2 separate regions of the Homo sapiens genome follow, and region 1 is linked to region 2. Evidence: fine-mapped expression QTL. A gene starts in region 2. The other region holds a variant in brackets. All regions are shown on one strand. Distances are from middle to middle.

Region 1 (12,817 bases), 76 kb after region 2:
TTAAGATGTATCAGACCTCCTTTTCCTCTGTTTTGAATAAAGGCAATAAAGCTGTGAGAAGAAACAGTACCTTTGAGATCCCTGGGAAAAATACAATTTTTCTTACTCTTACTAATTTCTCTACAATAAGAAAACTCCTTTCTTCCTAGTGTTGTTGATAAAATTAAATGAAGTGGTATGTAAAAGTGGCCCTGCACAGTTATAGACAGCATGGAGTGGTACAAATACATCTGGCTTTGGGCCAGATGTTCTGGCATTTGAATCTAGACCCTGCTACCTCTCTTTGGGAGGTCAGCTTGCTCACCAAGCTCCTGCGTCTGCAAAGCAAGAGTCATGACATCTAGTTGGCAGAGTTATTATGAAGGGTAAAGACAATATTTGTTTTCAAGCTCCTCCCTCTGTGCTCTGTGCTGAGTAGGCACTCAGCAGTCAGCGTTGTCATCAGTATTATGGTCAATGTTGTCAGAAATCTTGTCTTCGTCAGGAATGTAAGGTGAATCCAGTAAAGGATCTTCAGATGGTCTTGAGACCCCAGAGATTTCAGGAGTGATGGTAATAACATCTTGGAAGCATCACTGCAGATATTTCAGTGACATCATTGCTAATCCCACTTCCGCCATTTCCCCCCTCTCTTGTAGTTGAGAATGAAAATCATTGCGATTTTGTGAAACTTCGAGAGATGCTGATCCGCGTGAACATGGAGGACTTGCGAGAGCAGACTCACACCCGCCACTATGAATTGTACCGACGCTGTAAGCTTGAAGAGATGGGGTTCAAGGACACTGACCCTGACAGCAAACCCTTCAGGTATGAAGGCATCTAGCAATCAGGTGTCTCCCAGACAGTGGCGAGAGTGGCATGGTGGTACATCACAGAAATGCTTGCTGGATTGAGATGGTGATGATGGAAGGATCTGGTGGGTGAAGATTAATACATATGTTGTCAGGCATTGTGATAATTGCTTTATTTGCATTATCTCAACTAACTTACCTAGTTGATGTCATTATTATCCACATTTTACAGATGAGGAAACAAAGGCACTGAAAGTGTAAACAAACTGCCCAAGGTCCTCCAAGTAGTAAACAATGGTGTGGTGTTGAGCTCTTGCCATCTGGGTCCTGAGCCCAGGTTTCTGCCAGTTCTCTTGCAGAGGTGCAGAGCCTGGTCGATATATTTACAAAGGTGCGGCTGCTGATTACAGTTTGCCCCATTCATTTTTGCCAAACACCTTTAACTTCCGGAGGCTCTTCCTTTGTCAAGCACTTTTACTATTAGCTTTCAGTGGTTCGGTAAAATTCTAACAACAAAGAATCAGGAGGAAAGGAGAATAGCTTTTAGGAGATCTATGTATTTTCTTATATCACTGACGGGTGGAGACGCAAAATGTGAAGGGGAGAAATGGATGTAGAATTAATATCCTAGCCGAAGCCCAGACCCCGTCAGAATCCAGTGGTAGGGATAGGGCTGGCAAGGCTGGGGTGCTGTTGCCCACACCGTAGTGAGTCATGGGGTGGTTCTGGGTAAAGTTGTGGGGTGAGGCTGCCAGGCCAGGTTCACCACCTCCTGGTCGAGGAGAGGATTGTCCAGATGGTGCCCAAGCAGTTTTCTTTCTTTTTTTTTGTTTGAGACGGAGCCTTGCTCTGTCACCAGGCTGGAGTGCCTCGGCCTCCCAAAGTGCTGGGATTACAGGCGTGAGCCACCGCGCCTGGCCCCCAAGCTGTTTCTTAATGGGGATTTGAATTCAGGTGGTGTGAGGTGTGTCTGGGCTCTGTGCCTTTACAAACTGAGGGCCATAGTTCCTTGGGGAAAAAAAACCTGTCTTTCTCCTCTTTGGCCTACAACACACTCTGATGTCTACAAGCTGGCTGACAATAGAACCGGAGGCAGCCTGTGCACAGCAGATTCTGTCCCCGTGGGTCTGTAGGAGGGAGTTTATTTTCTTGCAATTGCTTTAGAGATAGTTTAGGAATGCCTGGGCTTGTCGCCTGGCACTGTGCTGCTGAGGAGTTCCATGAGCATGTGTGTATGCAGTGAGAACAAATGCAGAACCCAGACAAGGGGCATACCAAGAAGTTAACTTCTAGCCAAGATTGCATCATTCACTTCTGCCCTGACGGCTTGCAAAACTGACCATCTCCAACCATGTGAAAGTCATGTTCTGAGGCGAGGTGTAGGACACCTTTTTGTGTACACAGGTTTAGCTAATTGAACCTTGAAATGCATTTACCAGAAAATAATCCTTACAAAATCAAGTCCACTTTATGGTTACTAAACCTGATGAAATGGTTTCTGTGTGGGAAAGGCCGTCTTCAGTATTACATAAAATATTTGTTTTCATGCAAAGAGATATGGAACAAAAGGAACTGCCATAAAATTGAATTCATTTTCCCCTCACCTTCATTCAAATCCAGACAGTGTTGAAGAGCACTGGGCTAGGAGTCAGGAGTTTGGGTTCAGTTCTTGGTCCTGCTACGCTACAAGTTCTTAACCCATCTGGGCCTGAGTTTCTTCATCTGTGAAATGAGGAGCTGATCCAGATCAGGGAATAATTAGATCCAGTAAAAAAAAATTTTTTTCCATACTGGGTTAGACAGTAAATATTTTAGGTTCTGCAGGCCAAACGGTCTCTGTCACAACTATTCAGTTCTGCCCTTGTCGTCCGAAAGCAGCCATAGACCATACTGTAAATGAATGGGCATGGCTGTGTTCCGGTAAAACTTCATTTACAAAAACAGATGGGGGGCCAGATTTGGTCCTCAGGCTGTAGTTTCCCAACCCCTAGACGAGATCATAACTTGGAGCCTGTGAACTGCCTGCAAAAGTTAGAATGCATGTGACTGCTTCTTGAGTTTGTTAGAGGTCATTTACCTCCCAAAGTGTTTTACTTCTCAAAATGTTCAGAGCCATTTGGCATAGTTGTGTTTCTTTCAACTCAGGAATCTGTGGAATTTGAAGAGTCTATGATGCTATCCTTAGCTATCTACACCACCAGGAAGGGCCCAGTGGCCTAAGTTTGCCACTTAGGTCTTTCCACCATCTTGACTGGGTTCCTTAGGATCCCTGGGAGCCTGGGGATTGTGAGGATTTCCTGCTGCTGCAGACGCACAGCCTGCTAAGTTGTCTGTGTGGCCAGCATTTTAATTAAGGCATTTCCTGCAAGCCCAGAGTAACTGCCCACCAGGAGGAGGTGGAGCTGGGTAGGCCCAGCAGGGCTTCTGCAAGGGACAGCTGCTGGGCAAGCCCACTGCTTTGTTCTCCCTGTTTCAGGGGCTTCAGGATTGGTGAGGGATATCACCGAGGCTGCCTGACGCTTAGAGAGCATGCTTTATCCATGTCTCCCCTCCCCACTTGGATCCATTTCCCCTGGCCTGAGTTTTGCTTTTGATGATGAAAAGGGAAAATGTATACACACACACACACACACACACACACACACACAATATATATATAAAATAATATATATTAATTATATCATATATTACTAATATATGATATAATTATATAATAATATATAATATATACACATATAATATATATACACACACATATATATTACCAAGGCCTTTACTTTTTTCCATATATAAGAAAATTAGAAAAAAGTGGACCTTCTAAAAATAAATACCTTCCAACATCTCGATAACTGGAACCAGGTTTTCCATTTCAACTGGAAACAATTTCTCCTCTTAGACCACTCATTCAAACTCTGATGTCCCTCCTGGTTTAGGGAAGATTACTTGGTACCAAAAGTTGGCTTTGAATCACATGTCTTGGTAAATAGTGATAAGAAATGAATTTGATTTTCCTTTTCTTGGAAACCACTACTTTTAAAAGGGCTCGGCCTTTCCCTTTGAAGAATTTCGGGCACCCTCAGCACTTCCTGTGCACCTGAGCGGGAGGAATGGAGTGAGGTGACTCTGTTTGAAGGATGACAGAGTTAAGGAAAAGCAGAAGCCACAGTTGATTGAAGTGATTTTCCAGAATTTCATCTGCAAAGTCACCATTCCTGGATGTGCTTGGAAGATGGATCTTCCGTGTGAATTTAGGCTGAGCTTGGAGGAGTATAAATCAAGGGCTTAAGGTTTTATTATATTCTCAAAGCACAGGATTTCTGCATGGGTGTGCAGTGAAGTTCATCCTTCCCAGTGAGCACCCTC[G/A]TTCACCTTTTGTCCTCTGGGCCCCACTTGTGTTTACAGTACATGTTTGTAAAACAGAGAGTGACCTCTAACACCAAGTCTAGTAAGAGGCAGTGCCACTGTGTATGTTACACAGTGTGAGGCAAAAGGAGGAGTAGCGCGCGCACAGAAACGCCGTATTCAAGCCTTGGCAGCACACCACGGCAGTAAAGCTAGCGGAGCCCGTCCCTGGGGTGCCTTTAAACCCGCCTGCATTCACACTTGCGTCTTTATTGTCTTGTGGCAGAATATGTATATAACCAGACATTCATCTGCTCTTTCCCAAGCCCATCTTTATCCGCCCCCTGTGCATGCCCGGCTGCTGCCCTGAAGCCTTGAAACTCATGCGTCTACCACCCAGAGCACCCATGCTTCCCTGGACCCAGGCGTCTCCTTCCTCCAGACCCCAGCCCCTTTCTGGCTGGCATTATAGGGTAGAAGAGGAGACGTCACGTGTCTCCCATGAGCCACTCCCTGCTTCCTTTCTCCTGAGAGGCCACAGCGCTTTTCCTAACAGTACCTGCCCAAGCTGCTCCCATCTCACCTCAGAACACCACCGTCTCCTTGCTTCACCCCCGTTCAACTCACACGAAGCACTCAGTTACCACCATTTTCTCAGAGGCCAACGAGGTCCAGGCCCCAGAGACTCACTTGTTTTTAGGAGTGCCTGGGCCTCTGTACACCAGCCATGCAGTGCAGGAGATGGAGTTCTTATCTGAGCAAGGCAGCCTGGTCTCAGTCCTGGCTCTGTTACTTCTTTGTGGTGTGACCTGGTCAAATTACCTGTGTGTCCAAGTTTCCCCATCTATAAAGTGGGAGGTGATAGTAATGGCTACCTTATTGGGTTGTTGTAAGGATTAAATGAATTCACATGTGTATTGCTCCACTCCACAAAAGCTGGTGGAGATGATCATACTCTGGCCTGCCCTCCACTAGATGCTTTTAGATAAGAACAGAGAGAGAATCGTGCTGTGTGAATCACCAGAATGAAGGATGAACTGAAGTGTCTGTGTTCGTTCTCTCTTCCTTTGACTTCAACAAGCAAAACCTGCCTCTCCCAAGGGCTGTTAAGAGGAAATTATAAGATAAAATCCTCAATTTCAAATCAATCTAAAATCTTGTGAAAAAGGTACACATTTCTCACTTAGAAAAGGGTATTAATAACTGTAATTAAAAATTAAGTTTGAAGAACTAAAAGTTGCAAAAGATACCACTAAAGGGATGCATGCAGTGGCTCACACCTGAAATCCCAGCACTCCGGGAGGCTGAGGTAGGAGGATCACCTGAGCTCAGGAATTTAAGACCAGCCTGGGCAACATAGGGAGACTTCATCTCAACAAAAAATTTTAAAAAAAATTAGCTGGGCATGGTGGCACATGCTTGTGTTTGGTCCCAACTACTCGAAAAGCTGAAGTGGGAAGATCGCTTGAGCCCAGGAGTTCGAGCGTATGGTGAGCTATGATCCTGCTCCTGCACTCCAGCCTGGGTGAGACAGTAGGAACCTGTCTCAAAAAAAAAAAAAGATGTAAAATCACTTTGGATATCTTTACTGAATATGAGCCAGTTCCTTCTGAACTGGTCTTCAATGACTGGAAATATTAGTGAGGGCTTGTGGTATCTCTAGTGGACAACTCAACTGGCAGAGGGGCTGGGAATCTGATTCTGTGGATGCTATGGTTCTAAGTTATTTGTAAGTAACTAATTACAGTTATGATTCCTTGGGGTAAGGTTTTATGGCTTCTGTCTTATGTTCCTGATCATTGTTTCCAATGTCAGAGTTCAAAAGCTGGCTCACATCCTAAGACACAATGATATAAGAAGTAGCATTTGTTGAGCCCATTTGCCTGCTCTGGCCCAGGGTGTCAAAACTGCTTCCAGACTCATGTCTGAAGCTAATCTTGCCAATGGCAAAGTTGCTCCTTAGGCTTTCTCTGGGACTAGGCTTTCCAATTTTGGACTGCAGGTTTCACTATAAAAAGCATTTTCCATCATGATCCAGCATACACATTTTGTGTAGTAATGCCTACTCTTAAACTTTTTAACGTACTGGTTAAGACCCACAACTGAGTTGTGATTCATAGTTTCATAAGATGGCTTGTGGTTGGGACTGGATAAGGCAGAGTCATTTAGTGAGTTCTCAGCATTTAGGGTAGCATTACCCAGAGCACATTCTATCAGTGAACTGCCTAAATTTTCCATGATCAGACAAATTTGGAGGATTCTAAGACAATCAAGTTGAATAGATTCTTTTACTGAAGGGCTACTCAGAGCATTTAAGACAAGCAGTAGTTAGCAAACTAGTTATATCAAATCACATGGGAAGCATTTAAAACTAGCAAACTAGTTGCATCAAATGACCTGGGAAGCATTTAAAACTAGACCATTTTGCCTTACCAGACATCCTGAATCAGCCTCTCCAGGACTGAACTTCGGACTCTGTATTTAGGGAAGTGTATGCAACAAAATGTGCCTAGTGCCCCTGCTGTATGGCCAAGGTTGAGATCCACCATGCACTGTGAATCTGCTAAAAGGATATCAGGGGCACCATTCTCCCTTCCGTCTTTTGACGTTGGAGCCCCTCTTTTGGAGATCCTTTCTTGAAATTGGTGGTCTCTGGAATACACTTTCGGTGGTGTTTCTATCAAAGTTTCCATTGTTTGTTAGAAAGAAGAGGGAGATATATTCATTATTCTAAAATCAACAAAAACTGAGTTTTCTGTAAAATTTCATAAGAGGGACGAGTCATCCTCTACCTTTGGCAATTCTGACCTAAATAATAGTGATCAAGAGTTTATTATAAGCTAATATGCAAAATTTCATGAATTATTTTATAGTTCTGTTATGAGTACACTTCTCTATATCTCCATTGCTATAGATCTTAAACTTGAAGTCCAACTATTGCTATTAATATTAGCCAACACTAACATTGGCCAAGCATGTTTTTATCTTATAAGATAATGTGAAAGCGAAATGTACCTCTGGAAACTCAAAACACTTGATTGTTCATAAACAGGTACTATTGATAGTGGCAAGGGCAAGAGAACTTACTTTTAATAAACTAATAACCGTGTTAATTATTGAAGTATAAACCAGCCTGATTAATATGTTTTCTTTTTTCGAGATGGAGTCTTGCTCTGTTGCCCAGGCTGGAGTGCAATGGCATGGTCTCAGCTCACTGCAACCTCCAATTCCTGGGTTCAAGTGATCCTCCTGCCCCAGCCTCCCAAGTAGCTGGGATTACAGGTGCTCATCACCACATCCAGCTAATTTTTGTATTTTTAGTAGAGATGGAGTTTCACCATATTGGCCAGGCTGGTCTCGAACTCTTGACCTCAGGTGATCCTCCTGCCTCGGCCTCCCAAAGTGCTGGGATTACAGGTGTGAACCACCATGCTTGGCCTAATACATTTTCTAATACTAAACTGGTTGTGTGGTTCATTATAGATGTGTGTATCTACATGCACGTATGCTCCTATCACCTGAATTTCCTTTTTCTTCATGTAAATGGACAGATGTAAATGATATGTGGTGGTCTGCATGGTGCCAGGGATCGTGCAGAGTGGCTATCCAGTTTGTAGTCTACACTTTGGATGAATTTAGTCCATGGGAAAGGCAGATATACTGCAGATGGTTAATATACAACAATTGTTGTAGGGAAACTACAAGACAAAGAGAGAAATAGCACTTTATAAAATATCAGCAAATGTTTCTGTGTGTATGTGGGGGTTGCAGTGGGGGTGTATTTTCTTAAGCTGTGTTACCAAAGTGATTTCTCTGTAAATATATTTGTTTTGACTTAGAGATAAAGCTGAGCTGTAGCATTCAATGTAGAATATTGGGCTCTAACTTCCAAGACAGTCAGGAGGAGGATAGAATTGAAAATAAAAATTAAACTTCTCCCTGCTCTGTTTACAACTGGTAATATACTTGAAAAGTAGCAATTTTCTACAGTACCTTTAAAGGTAATGTTGTCTCTTTAGTTTACTTGCTGGGTCTATTTTCCACATTGGGGGCTGGAGGGAGATGAGAGGGGAGGGTACCATTTACTGGGCACTGACTATATGTTCGATGTTTTATTCCCTTCCCCTCATTTCATTCTCAGGGTCATATCCCTAGAAGGTAAGTGTCACTGTATCCACGTCTTAGACCTTGGAGGCTGAGGGAGGCTGTGCTTTTCTAAGAACAGCCGGTTACTTAGTATGGCCCAAATTCCAATCCGGATCTGTGGGACTCCAGTCCCTCTTCATTTCTCCCCCTATAGCAGGCCTTCTCCATCTTCTCAAATTCTATACCACCTCCACCTCCTCAGCCCAGGTTTTCCTTGTATGAATATATGTAAGATAAAACTTGGCTAGTCACAGACACACCTTTAGTGCTGTGTTGTGCTTACTGACTGATTTCTAGTTCTTGATGCACTTGTCTTTCCAACCACAGCATAACTAAAAGCAAAACAGTGTCATTCTACTTATGCTTTGATCTGGCAAGCAGCAGCTTTATCTATGTTTTGAAAGTAGATAGGTAGAAATTATGTGAACTGAAATTTCTTAGTATACAATTTCATGATGCTGTCCTTCGTTTGTGGATTTTCAATAGTCTTCAGGAGACATATGAAGCAAAAAGGAATGAATTCCTGGGAGAACTGCAGAAGAAAGAAGAAGAAATGAGACAAATGTTTGTTATGAGAGTGAAGGAGAAAGAAGCTGAACTTAAGGAGGCAGAGAAAGAGGTAAGCCATCTGTCCTGCTTCAAGGGAAAGATTTGTAAGAGAGAGATTTTCTAAATACATCACGCTTTAGAGGACTTCATGATGGTCCAAGTACTTTCTACATGCATTTTGTCACGAGTGACCTGCCAACCTGGCCAGGAAAATGGGTCAGATATTCTCATCCCTGTCTTACAGATGATAAACAGGTTATAAAAGTTAAAACTATTTTTGCAGTCACATACCTAGTTAGCAGCAAAACCGAGACTAAAACTAGATCTTAGGTCTCCAGATCTGATCACATGGCCTGTGTAGCTCTGTGTTTCTTCAATTTACAAGTCTTAAAACATGAGATTTGGGATTCTGCGACTATTATTATCTTCTTAGTCTATCAGCCAACTCAGCTAGACTTTGGCAGTGTCTGGGGGACAACGATCTGACACAAAGCCTGCACTCCACATCTGCGCCCGTGCTTCTGCCCTCACGGGGCTTGCACTCCCTGCTTCAGCCTTACCTTAGTCCCCTCCCCTGGCCAGATTAACTGCTTCCTAGAAGTTAACATAGATTTATACTATAACATTCATCCCATTGTATTTGAGTGTGTGTGTGTGTGTGTGTATGTGTGCTTGTGTGCATAATGTCTATTTCTGCTGGTCAATAATGAGTATCTGAAGTGTTTGACCAATGTCTCTATATGTTTCTAAGTGAAATCATTTAAATAAATTTCCTCGTTTTCTTGTTTTAATTTATTTTGTCTAAAAACTACTGAAATTTAGAGGCTATTTAAATAGCTAAGCACTCAAGATGGTTTTGCTGCAGAGAAAGTTGAGCCTTATTTGCTGTTGGCTTCAAGAACCAAGGGGATGCTGGGTAAAAAATCTAAAATTGTCTAGAATTCCTTCCTTTCCTTTTCTTTTTCATTTTCTTTCTTCTTCCTTTGCTTTTCTTCTTCCCCTTCCTTCCCTCAAGGGCCAGAAATTTCCCAACACATTATTTAAGTAGCTAATACATAATGCATATATATATATATACACACACACACACATATATATACACACACATATACACACATATATACATACACATATATATGTGTATATATATACAAACACATACATATATGTAGTCATTGTATATATTTCTAAGTAAATGTTTTTTATACATTTCGAAAAAGGACCAGAGGTAAAGAACCACTTTTACCACTAGGGTGAGTTTTTTGTTGGGATCATAATTATTTTTGGCCAGGTGCAGTGGTTCACGCCTGTAATCCCAGCACCTTGGGATGCCAAGGTGGGAGGATCACGAGGTCAGGAGTTCGAGACCAGCCTGGGCAAATGGTGAAACCCCGTCTCTACTAAAGATACAAAAATTAGCTGGGTGTGGTGGCGCATGCCCATAATCCCAGCTACTCGAGAGGCTGAAGCAGGAGAATTGCTTGAACCCAGGAGACAGAGGTTGCAGTGAGCTGAGATTGTGTCACTACTCTCCAGCCTGGGCAACAGAGCGAAGGAATTTTTAGTCCCAAGGAGTTCTAGTGTCACAGGAGTCTGGGACTCTGAGGGATGCTCTTCAGCATCCCAGCTCAGCTCCTCCAGGAAGTCAGCAAAATGGTACTTTACACCTGTATTAAAGCCAGTGCAGCCACATGACACATATTTGTTTGTTTTCTTTTATTTTCTTTTGAGACGGAGTCTCTGTCACCCAGGCTGGAGTGCAGTGGTACGATCTCAGCTCACTGCAACCTCCGCCTCCCAGGTTCAAGCAATTCTCTGCCTCAGCCTCTTGAGTAGCAGGGATTACAGGCACCCGCCACCACGCCTGGCTAATTTTTGTATTTTTAGTAGAGATGGGGTTTCACCATCTTGGCCAGGCTGGTCTTGAACTCCTGACCTCGTGATCCACCCACCTCGGCCTCCCAAAGTGCTGAAATTACAGGCGTGAGCCACCGTGCCTGGCCATGTTTTGTTTTTTGAACAGATCCAAAGAACTTTACATCAAAAGGATTTTCATTCCATTCACCAAGCCTGTTTTCTTTTTCTCTCCAGCTTCACGAGAAGTTTGACCTTCTAAAGCGGACACACCAAGAAGAAAAGAAGAAAGTGGAAGACAAGAAGAAGGAGCTTGAGGAGGAGGTGAACAACTTCCAGAAGAAGAAAGCAGCGGCTCAGTTACTACAGTCCCAGGCCCAGCAATCTGGGGCCCAGCAAACCAAGAAAGACAAGGATAAGAAAAAGTAAGCAGGTGTCACCCCCCTGTATCGGGGACCTCTAACAATTTATTCCTCTTGCATGTCTCTACTTTTCCCATTTACAGACTGGAAACTGGTCCTTTACCAGAAAGATAAAAGCAAGTATTTTCTCTACAGTGCAGGGAAGATGATGAAGGTTTTTAAATTTTTTTAAAAGGTACACAAAGATTAATTTATAAAACTTTACCACAATTGACCAAGCAATCAGGCCTGGAGGAACCTGTTGTCTCCAGTAGCATCTTCCACACCAACACTAGGAGTCTCAAAGAAGACAGGTTGATGTCTCTTCAGCACCCTCTGAAGACAATTCTCATGACTCTTGATAGAGAGCATCCTAAAATCACAATTGTTAAAATTATTTTCCTATTCTGTGTTGTAAGACTTCGTAAGCCAGTCACTGAAATTCTCGTTCCCAAAATGAAACATTTGGAAGAGCTGCTAGTGGCCACTAGTTTCCTCAAAATTCAATATGATGAATTGTTTTATTGTGAAATGGGATCCAAATGCCTATCCAGTTGACACCTCTGCCAACCTCAAGCCAAACCTAAACCCATTCATAAAAGGTTTTTTTTAAATAGGGTCTTAATGTCATGTGCCAAAGGGTCAGATTCTGCTCTTGAGTTGGTCACTTCCTGTGATACTCCAGTAGCAGCTGCCTGAAACCAGTGGGAGATTTAGGCCTCCCTTGACATTCTCCTGTGATTTGAAGCTCTCCTTTGAATCATCATAAAGCCTAGTTTTATGTCAATGCTATCGGTTTTGACAGGAAGCACGATGGTAAGAATACCACTAACGAAAACCTTTGTGGTGTCTCAATGACAAATATGCAGATGCCACCCTCCTTTGTCTAATGTACGGTGCTTTAGGGCAGCTATTTAATATAAAGCAACTCAGAACTTGTTTCAGGAAGTGTTGCTCTTTCGCCTTACATGCCAAGGTTCTAGGGAAAAAGCTGACCATATGTAAAAACATTGATGCTCAAGCACATAAAGAATTACATTCTTTAAACATAGAGTACATAGGATCAAGTCTCTGCACAATAATTGAGATGTGTTATAGGGAAAAGTGAGCACAGTGCTATTGTCCACTTAGTCTTGGTGAATGTGCAGTAGGCTCACCCCTAAGGAATCTCATGTTGCCTGCAGTAAAAATAAAAATGGACTGCTACAATGACATACTGAGAGAGTTTTAAATCATGCTTTACAAACTGACATTCTGAGCTCTGAGACAGCAGAAAATGTATCACCAGAGCAAGGGAGGAGGCAAATGTTCTGAACAATAATTGAAATGGTTGTGATTTTATTTGGAGTTGGCACAGATCCAAGTGACCAAAGGAGTTCAAGGCCCAAAATTTAGTTATGCTGGATTAATTCTGAGAGTAACAAGCACATAGATTATAATCTAAGAAAACCCTTTGTAGCTATGCATGTCGGGAGAGCATCTAACACTAATGGTGATGTTTCCCATGCAGAGACTCAGATTACAGTGACTCTTCCAGTGAAGACAGATGAAAGCCATTGGGCATTGTACCTTTGTTAATCCAAGCTAAACTAACCAAGGATATAGGGGTGTGTATGTGTCTGTGTGTGTGTGTTTGTGTGTGTGTACACATACATCTATAGGTATGAATGAGACAAAAAGCTGCTGACTTACAGCTTAGGAAATGCAAAGTCAAGTTTTTCTTTTCACCCTGAG
Region 2 (16,365 bases):
TGGATAGATGGTGAATAGAGTGGAAACTTCATTCTGCATCATTTTATGTTTTTTAAAAAACTGTGTAAGTATATTACCTCTGAGACTGCTGATTTCCTCTCAGTGTCCATTTTTCATTTCTTCCTTTTACAAGTAGGACATCCCCCCTGAGTTTTTGGAGGGCATATCCTAGCCTCCTCTGCAGCTAAGTACATTCCTGTGACTGAATTTTTGCCAGTGGAATGTGAACACAGGTGACTTATATTATTTCCATGTCACTTCCTTAAATGGAAACTAATATCTTCCACTTTCTTTTCTTTACCCTTTCCATGGGCTAGAATGTGGATATGGTGCTGGTGAGACTGTTTTGATCAGAGTAGATAAGGTAACAATCGGAAATAAACATCTAGGCTGGGTGCGGTGGCCCACATCTGTAATCCCAGCATTTTGGGAGGCCGAGGCAGGTAGATCACCTGAGGTCAGGAGTTTGAGACCAGTCTGGCCAACATGGTGAAATCTCATCTCTACTAGAAATACACAAAAATTAGCCGTGCATGGTGGCTTGCACCTGTAGTCCCAGCTATTTGGGAGACCGGGGCAGGAGAATCACTTGAACCCAGGAGGTGGAGTTTACAATGAGCTGAGATCGCACCACTGCACTCCAGCCTGGGTGACAGAGCAAGACTGTCTCAAAAACAAACAAACAAAAAACCATCTATTTTTCTTTAACCAATGACTCTTGGGATATTCCCATTACAGCAGCTTCGCCTATATCCAAATACATCAACTTAAAAATTTTGCATAGCTCATGATGTTTGACAGTGTAGGAACACGAACGCAAGTGTCCTGGCTTCCAAGTCCATGTTTTCTCTGCTGATGAGTAGGAAGGCAGTCTTGCAACGGCTAGTTCGTTATCTTCCTAAAGTGTGGAATGATGACTCATGAAGCATAATCTGCCAAAATTCATGATACCAGCCAACCTACAGCCACTTCTGCTGATTCAGATGGGACTCAATAAAACAGACAGAAGTAAGGTGAAATATAATGCTGATGACTTTTGAAATCTCAGCCTGGAAAGAGAGAATTAGTGGTAAAGCAAATTGAACTTGGGAAAATTAACAAAATGAACATAATCCAATAGGTATCGGTACATGAGGTAGCAAGGAAATTATGACTGAAATATTATAAGTCAAGGAAATTTTATCTCATTCAAAAGGAACAAGTCTACAGTAAGGGAGATGAGGGTGCAGAGTAACCCCTGCATCAGAGAGTTATTCAGCTGGTAGAAATGGACAGTGGTAGAATGGTAGATAGCAAATAGGACGAGACAAAAGGTGAGAAGGTGTAAGTGACATGGCTGTCAGAATATACAAGTGCATATGATTCTCTTCTAATTCAGTGGCAGTATCTAGTATTCAGAGGGACATCCACCACATAAATTTTCTAGGCTCATGAAAAAGAATAATAACTGTCACCACAATGACTGGCCACAGGGAGAAAGGAATTATCTGAGAAGGAGTGATGCCAGAGCCAGGGGAAACTGACCCAGCTCCAGGGCTGGCTGCCAAACAGAGTGGCCAGCAAGCCAAGTCATCTTACTCTAAGGAGCATGTCACTTCACAGGACATACTTATTGCAATCAGATTTTTTAAACAGCGTGCTTTAAAGAGTACCATAGCCTATAAGAATGGAAATGTCCCTGCAGGCTTAGATAATTTTTGCCTTTAAAAAGAATACAAAGACTTTTTTTAAATTTATTTTTTTGTTTTTCAAGTAATACTTGCCACAAGAGGGTGAACAAGAAAGGATGGAAGCTACTGCTTCGTGCTGATGACATAATGCTATCAGATGACAAAGAAAAGGTAAAACTCAAGTTTTAATTTATTTGTCTCCTCTCCCAAAGAGACTAATGTTTTAATGAAAAAAGGTAGAATAAACATGATTTAAAGGCTACTAAAATCCAGCATGGTAAGCAAGCAATCGATTGCTTTAAATGAGTTTCTAGGCCTAAATGAATTATCCATGCAAGAGATTTCATAAGTGATCGTAAAGGTAATTACTCACTTTCCAGAAGCCAGAGAAAAATAAGAAATGATAAAAGATTGAAGAAGGGCAAATATTGTCTTGATTTTCAAAGATAATAAAAAGTGGTAGGGGCAAAGAAGAGTCAGAGTTATTGGTAAATTTAACATTGCCTAACAATTTTCTAGAATGATTTTTAAATGCATTTTTTTAACAAAGAAAAGAAGAGATAATCACTGGAGCCTATGTGAGTTTATAAATGACGGTTTCAATGTTTTTGCCTTCCATGTTTATCAGAATCTCAGTGGATCCTGTATCTTGTAAACTTGCTGAGTTCATTTATTACTTCTAATGATTTTTTAGTGGATTCCTTAGGATTTTCTGTATATTTGTGTTATCTGTGAATAGAGAGTTTTACTTTTTCCTCTCAAATGTAGATGCATTTTACAATGTTTTAATGAACATTTTTACATATTGTGTTGCAGAAGGAGTTCAGGATCAGTCAGTTCAGGACAGTCAGTTAAACCATCCAAAATTAAAGTGGCAATAGCTAACTTATCACCTGTTTTGTGTGTGTGCTTTTGTTTGTTGTTGTTGTTGTTGTTCTGTGACTCAGTCTTGCTCTATTGCCCAGGCTGGAGTGCAGCGGTGCGATCTCGGCTCACTGTAACCTCTGCCTCCCCGGTTCAAGTGATTCTCAAGCTTCAGCCTCCCAAGTAGCTGGGATTACAGGCGCCCACCATCACGCCCGGCTAACTTTTGTATTTTTAGTAGAGATGGGGTTTCACCATGTTGGCCAGGCTGGTCTCGAACTTCTGACCTCAAGTGATCCACCCACCTTGGCCTCCCAAAGTGCTGGGATTACAGCCATGAGACACTGTGCCCAGCCTCCTGTTTTTCTTGTATCCCTTTATAATTAATCATTTTTATGGTAGTCAAGAGTGATCTGGTCTTTGGGTTCTTTGACTGTAAACCACAGAAACAAATCCTAGATAACTTAAGCCAGAAAATAAAAAAATAAATTGTAGACCCCATAAACTGTAACAATTTGCCAAAAAGTAAAAAATAATTTATGGCCTGCATAAACTGTAACAATTTGTATTGTCTTTGTGTCTCTTGATTCAAAATTCAAATGTAACAGCATCTAATTGGCCAAGCTTAGATCACATACTTTCTTAAGAATGTATGTACTGTGGTGATGAAAGGAAGGGTGTGATGGAACGTCTCTTCAGGAGCCTCTTATTGAAAATAAATTAAATTAATTTTTTTGGACGTGAGATCTTGCTATGTTGCCCAGGTTGGAGTACGGTGGCTGTTCACAGGCTCAATCATAACGCACTACAGCCTTAAACTCCTGGCTTTAAGTGATCTTCCTGCCTCAGCCTCTTGAGTAGCTGGGACTACACCATGCTACCACAGCCAGCGAGGAACCTCTTTTTTTGGTTTTGTTTTGAGATGGAGTCTGGCTGTGTCAGCCAGGCTGAAGTGTACTGGTGCGATCTCGGCTCACTGCAACCTCCACCTTGTGAGTTCAAGCTATTCTCCTGCCTCAGCCTCCCGAGTAGTTGGGATTACAGGCATGCACCAGCACATCCCACTAATTTTTGTATTTTTAGTAGAGGTGGGGTTTCGCCATGTTGGCCAGGCTGGTCTCGAACTCTTGACCTCAGGTGATCTGCCCGCCTTGGCCTCCCAAAGTGCTGGGATTACAAGGCATGAACCAGTACGCCTGGCCCAGAACCTCTTTTTTAAGAGGCATTTACTTTTTACCAAGTTGAAACATTCATTGGAAAAGCTCTCCAAATAAATTGGGGTTCAATTAAAAAGGGAATAGACCCTAAATTACTAACAATGCCAAATATTCACTATAGCTGTTTTCTAAAATGCAAATTTTCTTTGCTTAAAGACCTCCTTGACTCTTCATTACCTTAGTATGGCAATAAAAATTATTCATTTCCTAGTCTTTACCCTCATCTCCAACTCAAAATTTATTGAATATACCAGACCATGTGACAGAAGCTAATAGACAAAAAAGCACTCTTACCTTGAGACATTCATAGTCTAGTGACAGAAGCGTGATAGTACGACCACTTCTTGATTGCTTAATATGTCTAAAGCAGAGTTTACTGGCAATAATAGCTGGGGTGGCCATAAGTCCTTGTTTTTCCTATTGTCCTGACATCATTACTATCAGCACAAACCCCCTTTTCCCAGCCTCAAAAGTTTCTCAGTTTGGACAGAAATTATAGGTCATTCTAATAATAATAATACAGTATTTTCTCAGTTAACTCTCAAAACAATTCTGTGAAGGAATGAGATGTTCATTCCTACTGGATAATGTGAGTAGAGTTTTATAAAAAGACTATCTGCAAAGGTATGTGCAAAATGAAGGGAAACCATAGGGGTTTACTCTGGGTCACCCTAGGGAGGGATACTGGCTGCTTCCTTTGGTTGAGGGAGGCAACCAGCCTGCAATGGTGCCATAGTAAGGGAGCCAGGGGGGAATAAATAACCATACTCCTTCCTCTTTGTTCCATCGCTGTTGCTTCCTAGTGCCTTCACTCAACTGGAAGCTAGAGGGAAAGAAAGTCTCTTGAGTTAAGGCTCCAAAGGACAGACAGCAGGTTGGAGAGTGGATCTGGCTAACAGAACACGTCCTCCCCCAGGACTCACTGTTACTACCCTATTTTACAATAGAAAAAAAAAAAATGAGATGAAAGTTTAACTTATTTGATATAACAAAGCTCATAAGTGATCATCTGTAGCTGAAGTGCCAGGTTCTCCCCACTCTGCCACTCTCTCGCTAAGGCTCCAACATTCTAGCAATGCCAGGATACCCACCCTCCCCATAGCATCTTCACATCCCAAATGAGATGTTGGAATATGTAACGTTAAGTTTTGCTGATTAGAATAAACTAACCTACCCACCAAGGTAGGGCATTCACATTCTTACAATCTAAGCAGATGAGTTTACAGCATATACATTCACAAAATAAATAAGTAAAAAAAAAAAATTTGATAAACAAATTCTACAGTCTGTTCTGGTCAAGATAACACAGTTCCTTTGCAACTGCCCTTACATCCGGTTGGTGGTGTGTGGAGCCCTCTTTTCCCAGGCCTTACATGAGGCCTCTGGTCCATGGGCAGTGCTGCTGCTGTCTGATCCTCCTTATGGAGAAAGGACAAAATGTCCATGTACCAGAGCTGCAGAAGAAAGTATTTGTCTTCCCCCTCCCTTTGCACAGCACCCATCTGTGTGTAATCTTATTATTATATATTTTTTGAGACAGGGTCTCACTGCGTCACCCAGACTGGAGTGTAGTGGCGCGATCTCGGCTCACTGCAACCTCCGCCTCCAGAGTTCAAGCGACTCTCCCACCTCAGCCTCTATAGTAGCTGGGACTACAGGCAAGCGCCACCATGCCTGGCTAATTTTTGCATTTTTTTAGAGCCAAGGTTTCACCATGTTGGCCCACCTCAGCCTCCCAAGGTGCTGGGATTACAGGCGTGAGCCACCGCGCCCGGCCCATTTATGTGTAATCTTAATTCAACACTTATTGAGCGCCTACTGTATGTTTGGCATAAAATGGTGGTCCCTAATTTCAAAAGATTTGGAGTCTAGAGGGCAGAAATTGAAGAGGTTGGTGCTCTGCACGTCTGAGTCCGCCCACAGACTGAATAAATAAGCTCTGCGTCGGCGCCCCTCACCTTTCTTTCATGGCCAGACTTTTCTCTGGCGGTTCCACAGCTGTCCTGACAGTGGAATTCAGACGGGGTGACCAAGCCCCTAGCCCACCTACCAGCGAAATCCAGCATCAGTTCCAGGGCAGCCGGACCCGCGCCCGGGGACGACTGACCCTTAGCCCAAGGCTGCGGGGGCGTCGGAGTCCTGAAGCGCAGGCGAGGCAGGGCCAGCGGGACAGGGAGACTCAAGGCCCCAGGGGATCTGGGCGTTTGAAGACTCAGGTCAGACTCTGAGGCGCCCGTCTAAAGAGACCGGTTGTCTTTTCCCTAATTCAGGAGGCCAGGCTGTCCCTTGGGGCGTCGTACCGAGGGCAGATCACAGCCCTTCCCTCCTCACCACACTCCCTGTGCTTCCACCCAGCTGGTTCCCCGCCCTGTCCATCGCTGTCCTCAATCGCTTGTTGTCGTGGGCCCCCCTCTCCGGCCCACGTGGGGCCGCAGGGATCCACAGCTCATCTGACACACCTCGCTGCCCTGCACGCACCGGGACCCCTCCATTCCGCCGGCCCCTCAGACACGCAGTAACACCCCAACATCTGCTGGGAAAAAAATCTTCCCCACGGCGGAGGAGTTCTCAGTCCCACGCGCCCAGAGTCGCACCCACTCGAGCCACCCGCCTGTTGCCGTCGCCACGCCCTCCAGCCGCAGCCCCAGCGCGCATTCCTACGGGTCGCCGGGTCTGTCGCCAGCGATCGAATGAAGTCGGCTGATCCCCCACGTGTGGCTGCTCCAGTGACACCCAGGGGAGGCCTCGGTCCTTACCCCTAGAGCAACCAATGGCTGCCTTAATTCTTCAGCGGGGGCGTTCTTTTTCTTCCTCCCAAGCAGGCGGCCGTTGGGTCGGCCGAAGGCAGCAGCGACTACTACGGCTCTTCCTCTCCAATGGGATCCCCTGTCTGCCCGCGCGCCACAGTGACAGCTTCCAGATGCCTGTCTTTAGTCTCCCTTCTCAAGGGAAGCGGTGGGCGACCGAGGTGCGGCCTGGAGGGCCCCCATGTGGGAAGGGAAGACTTGCGGAAGGGCAATTCTTCCAGTGCGGAGACGAGGAGGCCAGCCCAGCCGCACTTCGGTCGCCCACCGCTCCGCCTGGTGGTCCGCAGCCCCTTCCAGGCCGGCTTCTCCGGGTGGGGCGTGCTAGTCCGGGGCTAACTTTCCGCCACGTGCTGTCCCTGCGACCCGTCTCCCCCGGTCGCCCTTCCTTCTCCCGGCGGCCGCTGGAGCTGCCCGCTTCGTGGAGCCGGTGGCAGGCCCCGGGGCTGGGAGCTCGCGCCCAGGCTTTTACTCAGATTCCAGCACCTGATGGAGCAGGGGGTGGCGGCCAGCGCACAGGCTGTCGGCATCTCATGGCAGCGGAGACGGTCGTTTGGGGACGGAGGGGCGAGCCCCGCGGCCGGGGCCAGTGGAGCTGGGCTCGGAGCCCGCCCACCATCCTCCCGCCCACCACCGCGGCCGGGCGCGCAGGCTCACACCCCTTCCTGGGGAAGCGAATGGTCCCTTCCAGGCGGGTGGCCATGTTGCTCTAATAAAGCGGGAGGGGCGGCGGCGTGGGGGGAGCAGATGCCGCTGGCTGCCAGCGGGACGCCGGCGAGCAGAGCGCAGCCGCGAGGGAGGCGCGAGGGAGGCGAGCCGGAGCCCGAGCACTAGCAGCAGCCGGAGTCGGCGTAAAGCACCCGGGCGCAGCCGGAGCCGGTGCCGCAGCTGCGATGGCCGTGGCCGTGGGGAGACCGTCTGTGAGTGCTGGGGCCTCGCCTGCTGCTCCTCGGGCGCCGGGTGGTCTCTGCTCTGGGGCGGGTGCGGTGAGGACCACAGGGGAGCCGGGCGGGTGCTCGGCCCCGCGGCGGCGGCGACGGCTGTGGGTGTGTGCACGAATTTGGGCGCGCGTCTGGGGTCGGGGTTAGGAGCCCAGGGGCTCAGTTACGTGATGCAACAGTGGATCGCCTCGTCGCGCCCCTCTTCTGGGAATGCGAAAGAAAAAGGACCCCTCTCCTGTTCCCTTTAAAATAATTCTTTGAGGCGCGGCGTGTCTCAGCCGCCTCCCTCTGCCCGCGCACCTCTTCCCTCGTGACAGCCAGAAGGGCGCCGGGTTCGGGGCTTTCCTCCAGTCTCCCCCGCGCCGAGGGGGCGCTCAGGGCATGGGAATTGCGAGCTGAAGTGCTGCGTGTGGCACTGCTGTAGAAGCAGGTCAGAGGGGTGGGATTTCCGTGGTGGCCTCCCCAGCGCATTGTGAGATCCCGGACACCCTCGGGCATCCACCCGGCTGAGCGGGCCCTGCCCAGGATGTGGACAAAGCCCCAGATAACACACACAAAGTTTTCTGGAGGCTCCCTTGTGGTGTGGGTGGAAGGACTGAAATGTTCTGCGGCTGAAAGGCCGGGGGCGGCGGGCTGAGGAGGCTGGGACGCGAGGAAGAGGAAGGGCGGGCGGGTGCGTGAAGAATCGAGTGCCCCACGGCGGGAGGGAGGAGAGTAGGAGGGAGGAGATACCTTTGCCCCGAGTGTGTGGGCCAAGGCGCCGCGCCTACTGGGTTGCAAGACTCGGTCCGCGCCCCGGGGCCGGGCCGGAGGGGAGCGGGACTCCGAGGGTGCGGTTCAGTGGCCGCTCCGCATCCCCAAGTGAAAGGCGGAGGAAGGGGCGGCGGCGGCCTTTCCTTTTTTTTGAAAGGAGCGGAGCTGGGTGGGAAAGGCGGAGTCCTCCTGTTTTCCCTTTCCCCTTTTCATCGTCGATGTTCACAGTCCACTCGCCTTACTGGCTTTGGGGGCGCCTCGGGCGATGTCTTTCCCTGTCTATCACCTCCTCTTCCCTTTTTCTTCTTCCCTTTCCCACAGCTGTGCAGCTGCAGGTGGTGGCTCGGGAGATTTTGTAGTTACAGACGAAAGACTTACTGAGATACTGGAAGCTCGGAAATCCCAGAAATGCAAGGCTGTGCTCTCAGGCTCCCGGCTCTTCCCCCTCTCCCCGCCTAACTCCTCCCCAGATACGCGCGCCTTTTGCACCCTACCCCCTCGGGAGAAGTTCATGGGTCCCTTTGCGGATTCTAATTCGATTTGGTGGTTCGGCTGCCCGCGGTGCTTTCAAAGACGTTTTCTGCAGTCAGAAAACACAGCGGTCATATCGAATCATGACTGTCTTTTAGGCCTTTTCAACTCTACGATTTAATGACATGGCTCTTTTAAGAATTCTGGTCTTCTTTTGCACATAAATTGTGCTCTTGATAATTAGTGGTCACATGTAGGTTATTGTTACTGAGGGAATTTGCATAGTCTCTGGGCTAGTCGTTTTATTTTTGGTGAGAAAATTGAGGTCTATAGAGGTGAAATTTATCTGGTTAAATTACTCCTCCCCCTGCCCCCCATTATACTTATTAGCAGGCATAGATTCAGAGAACTAAAATAACAATATCTGCTTTAGATAAATTGGCAAACGTTTAGGATTGCAAATATTCAGTGGGGGTGTTTGGCTTTTTCAGTAACACGTATTATTGCTGGTGCATTCTTGAGGGATGGAGGAGGTGGAAGAAATAATTAGCTGCACATTTTCTATAAATTAGTTCATATATGTCAGTTAAATAGGAACAGTATGTGGATTTAAGGTTTAGTTGTGTGGCCGTAATCACATCCAACACCAAGTCGGCCAACCATATGTGAGCTTAATCCCACAGAATTCTTATGTTAGACCTCCCTCTTCAGATAATAGAGGAGATTTTTTTTAAGTATACGTGCACAGAGGAAGTGACTTCTTTCTGCGCACTCTGTTGTCACTGGAATTAAAATTAAATTACAATCTAAAGACAGAAGACTTTTCTTTTGGAAACCTAATGTACGAGTGATTAGGAATTGACTATAAAGTTAGAAAGTCTACAGAAAATATGTGATCACATTTCACAGATAATTGTTGAATCCTTTCACTTTGTTCATTGGGCTATTGTCTTAAGTGTGGTCTCTGCAGTTATGGCTTTAAAACAAAGTCAATGAATGGGGAAGACTCTTGAGACACAGCTCCATGGAATCTACACTGCACCTTTAAAGTTAAGAGTTCTCTGGCCCTCCCATTTCTTATCTAGTCTGTGATTTCACCAAAAGAAAGGAAGGGTGCGCTGAGGGAAAAGAACCACTCCGAAGTTGATTTATGTGTGAATGGAATTTCCCTAGGTATTTAATTAGATTTTTTAAAAAGTTATTTAGGACATATATCTCCTTTTGCGATAACTACCTCTCCCCGCCAGACTGAAGAAAAATGCAATCTGAATAACTTACCCTAAATTTTTGATATTCTTGAATGGGAACATCTGAGTGTGATATCCCAGGTAAATATGACATTTTAGTGGGCAAAAATGCTTACATGTCAAATGCACTATTTTCTATCTTATGAAATGGTTATATTCTGTTACAAACCATTCAAACCTCAAGGCTAAATTCAGGTAAGTTTCTTAAGTGGATTTGTTGTTGACTGCAAAACAAAGCTTCAATTTAGTGTGATACTGTTTATTTCAGTTTTAATTTTGATCCCTAGCTTCTCCATTTCCCCACTGATGGTTTTTGGGCTTAGCCCTAAGAAGACCCTGAAGCACATCTGCTGTTTGCCTAGTATAACTGATGATTAGCAAGAACATTTTACTCCCAAGGGATGTGTCTGCATTTTGGATGAATTAGCATTTTTGCGTCCAAATCCCGGGGCAGCTATTATCTTTATTTTAAACAGAACATGGCAATTTACTCTACTTGGGAATCAGGCTTTATGTAGCTGATGGCCTCTCCTAAGCTGTGGTGTTCATCAGTTTAAAAACTCTAGGAGTTGAAAGGAACGTTAGAGGTCATTTGGGTTAGCCTGCTCCCCAGTGCAGAAATATTTCTTACTTTATCCCTAACAAAAAATATGTGTTTAAACTTCACTGGTGGTGGAGATTTCCCTATGATATCCTTCAAGAAATGCACTTAATTGCTGTTTTATCTGTTGAGCTGAAGGAAATGGAAAACCAAGTTTCCATTTGCTCATTTAACACCATTTATTAAGCACCTGCTATGTGTCAGGAACTTGTTCTAGGTGTTGGGGATATAGCAGTGGACAAGTTTTCTTCTTACCAGGAGCTTTATTGTTTGAGAGATTTGGTGTATTAAAGTGACAGACTTCAGTGTAAATGTGTAAATCATTTAGGGAGAAAAGGAATTATATGCCTATTGCTGACTCAGCAAATATGATTCAGGTGAAGGATCATATCTGTCTGGGGATAATTATAGGCAATTCTTAAAGATGAGGGCAGGGAGTGTGGGAAGTGGAGGAGTACTGCCAATAAAATGTTACTTTCCCTTGTTATAAAATTGCCATTTTTGTGACTTGAAAATGTGGCCCCAGATGGATGGCTGTGGTCGGTGTGCCTGGAGAAACATGAATGGAGCCAAGAAAGGTCCAGGGGAGGGCCACCTAAACAATAAAGGGACTGTCATCTCAGGTCAGTTTTCAAAAATTAGAACTTTTTAGTCAGTGATATAAATTATACATACTGAGGCTCTATAAGCAGTTATTAAGGAATGCAAGAAGTTTCTGAGGTACAATAATCTCTCCTTTTAAAATCTTTCGAAAGTTATAGATTAATTTATCTTTTAAATTATCATCTTTAAAAATGATGTGTCTACATTACAGTGAAAAGGAGACCCAAGGAATTGATTAAAAGAACAAAACTGCCCATAACCCACTATCCTGATATAATAGTTCTTAGGTGTTTAGTCTATTTCACCACTTTTTTGAGCAGACATAACCCATCTTGTATAAACTGCCACCTAGAAACCAAACTGTGTGCCTGAATGAGTCCTGTGTGACCATTTGAATAATACTCTTAAAATGAAGGAAGTGGATGCTTAGTGTTTGGGCATGGGCCATCCTATGTCTGCAAAAGGAACAAATGATTGTGGGACTCTGCTGTTTCCTTGATTTGGATGGCCTACTTGATTGATTGCCAGCAGACCAAGTGTTTATATTCTACCCAATGATGATGTCACACTGATCATGATCATCGGATTTAGACTGTGGCGCAGCCCACAGAGTTTTCTGTGCCTGTGTTTCTCTTTATAGGACTCTAAATTTGGTTGGGGATAGACGCTGCTCTTGGATTTTATCATTTTATTGGGATCCATCTTTCATAGTCTTAGCTAGACCTGTCTCAAATGGGGTTAGCAAAGCTGAACCATTATTTAAATGAAACCCAACACATCTAAAGCTTCTATACTTTTTTCCAAGGAGATCTACTTTACAATATAATTGATAACCTCCCCCGCCCCCTTTTTAAAAATCTGGATTGACAGAAAACTCTCAAATAACAATACTTCCCCTGACCCACTCATGCCTGCTGGCAGCCCATCAATGCAGCAGCTGTTGAACATAAAAACAATACTTGGGCTAAGGTAATAGAGACAGACTTCTAAAAGGAATTTGCTGGGCGATCTAAAATGAAATTCACATTGTTCCAGGCTTGACCTGAGATAGAAATCAGGAGTCTGTTCCCTGATATGACAAAGCCAAGGCACCAGAGCCACCTCTTTTTAGGATCGACGCCAATGAGTGTGAGCACATCGCTCAAGCCAAATGGCACAGGAAGTCCAGTTCTGTGGACACATTCTGCCCACCTGCTGAACTGTGACTGGGTAGGATGGAGTGTGAAACATTGAGAGAGGGGTAGGCTGAGGTGGTGAGGTGGGAAAGAGACCATATTCTAAAAGGACCATTTTTCTGACAAGTGGGAGCTTTGTTTGTTCTTGTCTGTGTGTGATTTCTTTTTTATTTATTTATTTATTTTTTTTTGCATTTTTATTGTACAAAAAGGAAATGAAAATATATATAGCATAACATTAAAATTTACCTACTTGTTTTTGATAATAACATTCCTTTGGGAAGAATTGATTTTTTTTCTCTTATAGAAGTTGAGGCACAATAATGTGGATAGGTTAGAGATTGAAAAACAAAATAATCCTCAACACCCTAACACATCAGTACTCATTCTTGCCTTTCCAACCCACCTGTTTTATCAGACATTTCTTGTGTACCTTCTATATGCAGGTGCTGAAATTATGTTGGTGAGTACTTGACTGCAGTCTTTGCTGCTCTCATGAAATCTCTCTATAGGCTGAGTAAGCAATAGGATTTAGCAAGGAAAGGGAGATGGGGAGGTGGTTGTGGAAGTGTTCCAAGCCCAGGAAACAGCATGTGCCAAGCTCTGGAAGTGAGGGAGAGACTCTTAAGAAATCCAATGTAGCAGGAACGTCAGCCTTAGGGTTGGGTAGGGAGAGTGGACAGACAAGAGGCTGAGGAGGTGGGAAGAGACTCAGTTGTGCAGTGCATTCTTTATAGGCATGTATTTACTGTGTAGCTCTTTAAATGCTTTATATTCCATCCACCCTTTGCCCATAACTTAAGATATCTCAGATCCTTGAAATTGGTTGAAGGAAGACAAAGAAAATCTGCAGACTACTAATTCTTCAGGATTCAATAGGAGAGTTGAGAAACGATCAGGGGAGTTGATTCCTTTCATGCCCAAATTGAACCCTTAAAGAATAGAGGAAATGAAGACTGACAGAGGACACAGAGAAGGAGAGTCCAGTGACAACATATGACAACGACAATGCTAGATCTTCCTCTGCCCAGTTTTATGCATTGAGCCTTTCCTCAGGATTCAGAACTAGAAGTTATTATTTTCTTAGACCTAAGCAACTGAGTCCTGAAGAGTGTGGTGGGGCTGGGGGGGAAGATGGTAGGACTCTTTCCACCTTGGACTTCAAGTGGCAATCAGTGTTCTCCAAAAAGGAAATTAAAAACTCATTGGATTTTATGAAAACAGGAGAAGAGTCTGTTAAAAGCCAGGGTTTACTTAAGACTTCATGCTGTTTTAGTTATCTCATCTCTTTGAGTACTGTCTTCATACCAGTATAAATTTTGTGAATCTCATTAAGGTACTCATTAAACTTACTCTGACCTGCTGTTGGAGGGCAAAAGGCTTGACCAAAAACTTCTGTGCACGGGAAGCTTGTTCAGCATCTTGATTTTCAAATTTATTCAATTCAAATTACTGTCAAGACAATTATCTCACCTTATACTCACAAAATACCTGAGAAGTAATATAGAGAAGGAAAATGAGACAGGAAGAAGTTGTCAGTTAATCTGCTACAGCAAATTTGTGGGAGAGCTAGGCTTTGGAACCAAAGGCTTTTAGACCAACATGCATACAGACCTCCCATCTGATTCAGTCAGTTAAGCTAAATTATGTTGCGGTAACAAATTGGCCCCATGTTTTGGTGGCTTACATAGCAAGGGTTTATTTCTCATGCAGCTGTTCCACCCTCGGAGGTCTGCTGCATACTGCATTGCCTCCAGGACCCAGGCTGAGGGAGTATCCTCTATCTGGGCATTGCCAGCCTGGTGGCAGAGGACAAAGAGACATGCTGAACCCTGGCTTCTCAAGAGCTGGCTTCTCAAGCTCTTAGATGGGTCACTTCCATGCAGATTGTATTGGCCAAAGTAAATGGTCATTCCTAAATTCAAAAGAATGAGGATAGAGAATCCTCCTGTAAAGAGTGGCTCTGAAAGACCCTTGGGCTGGGGAAGTAAATCCCCCTCTAGGGAGGGCAGTGAATATTTTGAATAACAGTTGGCTAGATTCCTAGTCAAGGAATCTACTATGAAGCCAAGTCTTTATTTTTAAAATTGTATCCCTGTCTGTAAGGATTTTTCTCCCTCTATTTGGCCTGCTCTGATTCTAGCTGGGCATAGTAGAATGATGTGTGTGTGTGTGTGTGTGTGTGTGTGTGTGAGAGAGAGAGAGACAGAGACAGAGACAGAGAGAGATAAGAGTTAGGCAGCCACAATGAATTGAAGTCAGAGTGAATTCTCCTACTCACTGGTGATGAGCTTCCAGGGACATCACCATCAAGTAAGTCATGGGTGGTAACCTTCTGAAAGGCCTTCTGTGCTGCTCTCTGATGACCTCAGCTGTGGAAGTGTACTCTCTGGGAAATGGTTCTGAGGCCATTAGGACTTCCAGCTGCTTGACAGAATGATTTCCCTTGGGACCTCGGCCCTTTGGACCTTTCCCAGCCATATGTCCCTAAATGCAGATGAATCAGATGGCACCCTTCTTTCCCTTGCTCTGTTTTTCTCTCTACTGAGAGGCCATAGTGTATAGCGTTTGGGTGAAAAATGTGGGCTCTGGAGCCAGGTTGCTCCGGTTCTAGAGTATCGGTTTTACCATTTAACAAGCTTTGTGTCCTTAGGCAAGTTACTTCCCTCATCTGTAAAACACTAACAGTACTTCCCTCAAAGAGTTACAGATTAAGCCAGTTAGTACACACACAGTGCTTACACTGCTGCCTGGAACATTCATCCTCAATAAAAGTTGGTTATCTGAGGAAAATGGTGCTGAAATAGTAATGGCTTTATACTGAAGACTGGGCTCAAACCAGAACTGCCACTCCACTCCACCCCACCCCAGTGGGAACTGAGCAATTGCCCCTTCTCTTGCACACCTGAACCACACAGGCTTCCCATTTTCTAATCATAGCACACCTTAGAGGCACGGATCAAGCATACCCTCCATGAAGCCTCCACCCATGAATCACCAAAATTTTGGCGATTTTTATTTATTTGAATTGCTGGCAACACTTATGTGTCATCCACATAGTGCTCTGGAGTCCCCACCCCACCTTTCCTTAAGTTACCTTTTTTAAAAAAAGTGACTGTCAAATATAATTGTGAACATAAAAACACAAAACAAAAAAACCTTATTACCTACCATAAGCAATATGTTCCACTAGCCCTTGACCACATTCTTGCATTCTTAGTCTAGATAGCCAGACTTAAGGGAAAGGACTATATGTCCTATACCCCCCACCAATAAACATTTGACTCAATAAGTGAAAATTCACCCTTCAGATAAATTGGATAAGACGTATTGTCTAAGACGTGTGCCTACCTGGCTGTTGCTGTGTCAACCCCCGGTAGGTGTAGACCTCGCAAGTCCACTTTCTGCCCCAGGCTTCTCTGCCATCGCCACCTGGGTTCTGCTTAGCTATTCTGACCTTTGTGCACTTCTGGACATCCAAAGGAGTTGCCATCCCAGGGGGCAACCCCCTTGAGATGGTGGATCTACATGGCTCCTCAATTGACCTGGCTCCTTAGAAGTTCCCCTCTGGGCCCCAGCCTCAGCCCTCAGGGGTGATTACTCTACAGTCCCCTTAGGGTGGCCTTCCCTCTTCCCCTGTTTCACTTTTCCCTGTCCCCCATTCTGTTCCCCTGGGTCACTTCCCAGGACTCACATGCATGCAAGTCCCTGTCTCAAGTCCTTGCATTTTGGGGAAACCTAGATGAAAACGCCTTGTTTACTAGTGTGGGGCTCGTCTTTTCCTTATACAAATAAGGGAGTATGAATGTTAATTTTGTAATATACTAAGCTACTTTGGATGTTTTAAAAAATACTCAGAACAAACTGACTTTTTACCAGGTTTTCACTACTATTTGTAAGACGCGGTTTTTGTTGTTGTTGTTGTTAGAATTAATGTTTTATTGTCACCCAGATGGCAATTAGGTTTATAATCTTCATACTTTATGTTTTTTGTAAATTAAAAAAAAATAAGTTTTAAA

What was found.
Region 1: its variant is fine-mapped to the expression of SEPTIN11 in whole blood (TOPMed, PIP 0.92).

The regions. Positions count from the first base shown.
Region 1 is chr4:77,019,864-77,032,680 of GRCh38, forward strand. It overlaps SEPTIN11 (septin 11), which reads left to right. Exons shown (of 10, transcript NM_018243.4): 7 at 639-807; 8 at 8,766-8,898; 9 at 10,920-11,107. It overlaps LOC105377291 (a long non-coding RNA gene), which reads right to left and starts at 3,462. Exons shown (of 2, transcript XR_001741734.2): 1 at 2,396-3,462; 2 at 1-913. RefSeq lists enhancers at 3,012-3,631, 6,139-6,218. The variant G/A (reference allele first, on the strand shown) is at 4,155.
Region 2 is chr4:76,942,456-76,958,820 of GRCh38, forward strand. It overlaps SEPTIN11 (septin 11), which reads left to right and starts at 7,297. Exons shown (of 10, transcript NM_018243.4): 1 at 7,297-7,475. The coding sequence starts at 7,449. LOC105377294 (a long non-coding RNA gene) reads right to left here and starts at 7,110. Exons shown (of 3, transcript XR_001741739.2): 1 at 6,508-7,110. It also overlaps the pseudogene TXNP6. RefSeq lists an enhancer at 6,082-6,161 and silencers at 7,072-7,251, 7,282-7,591.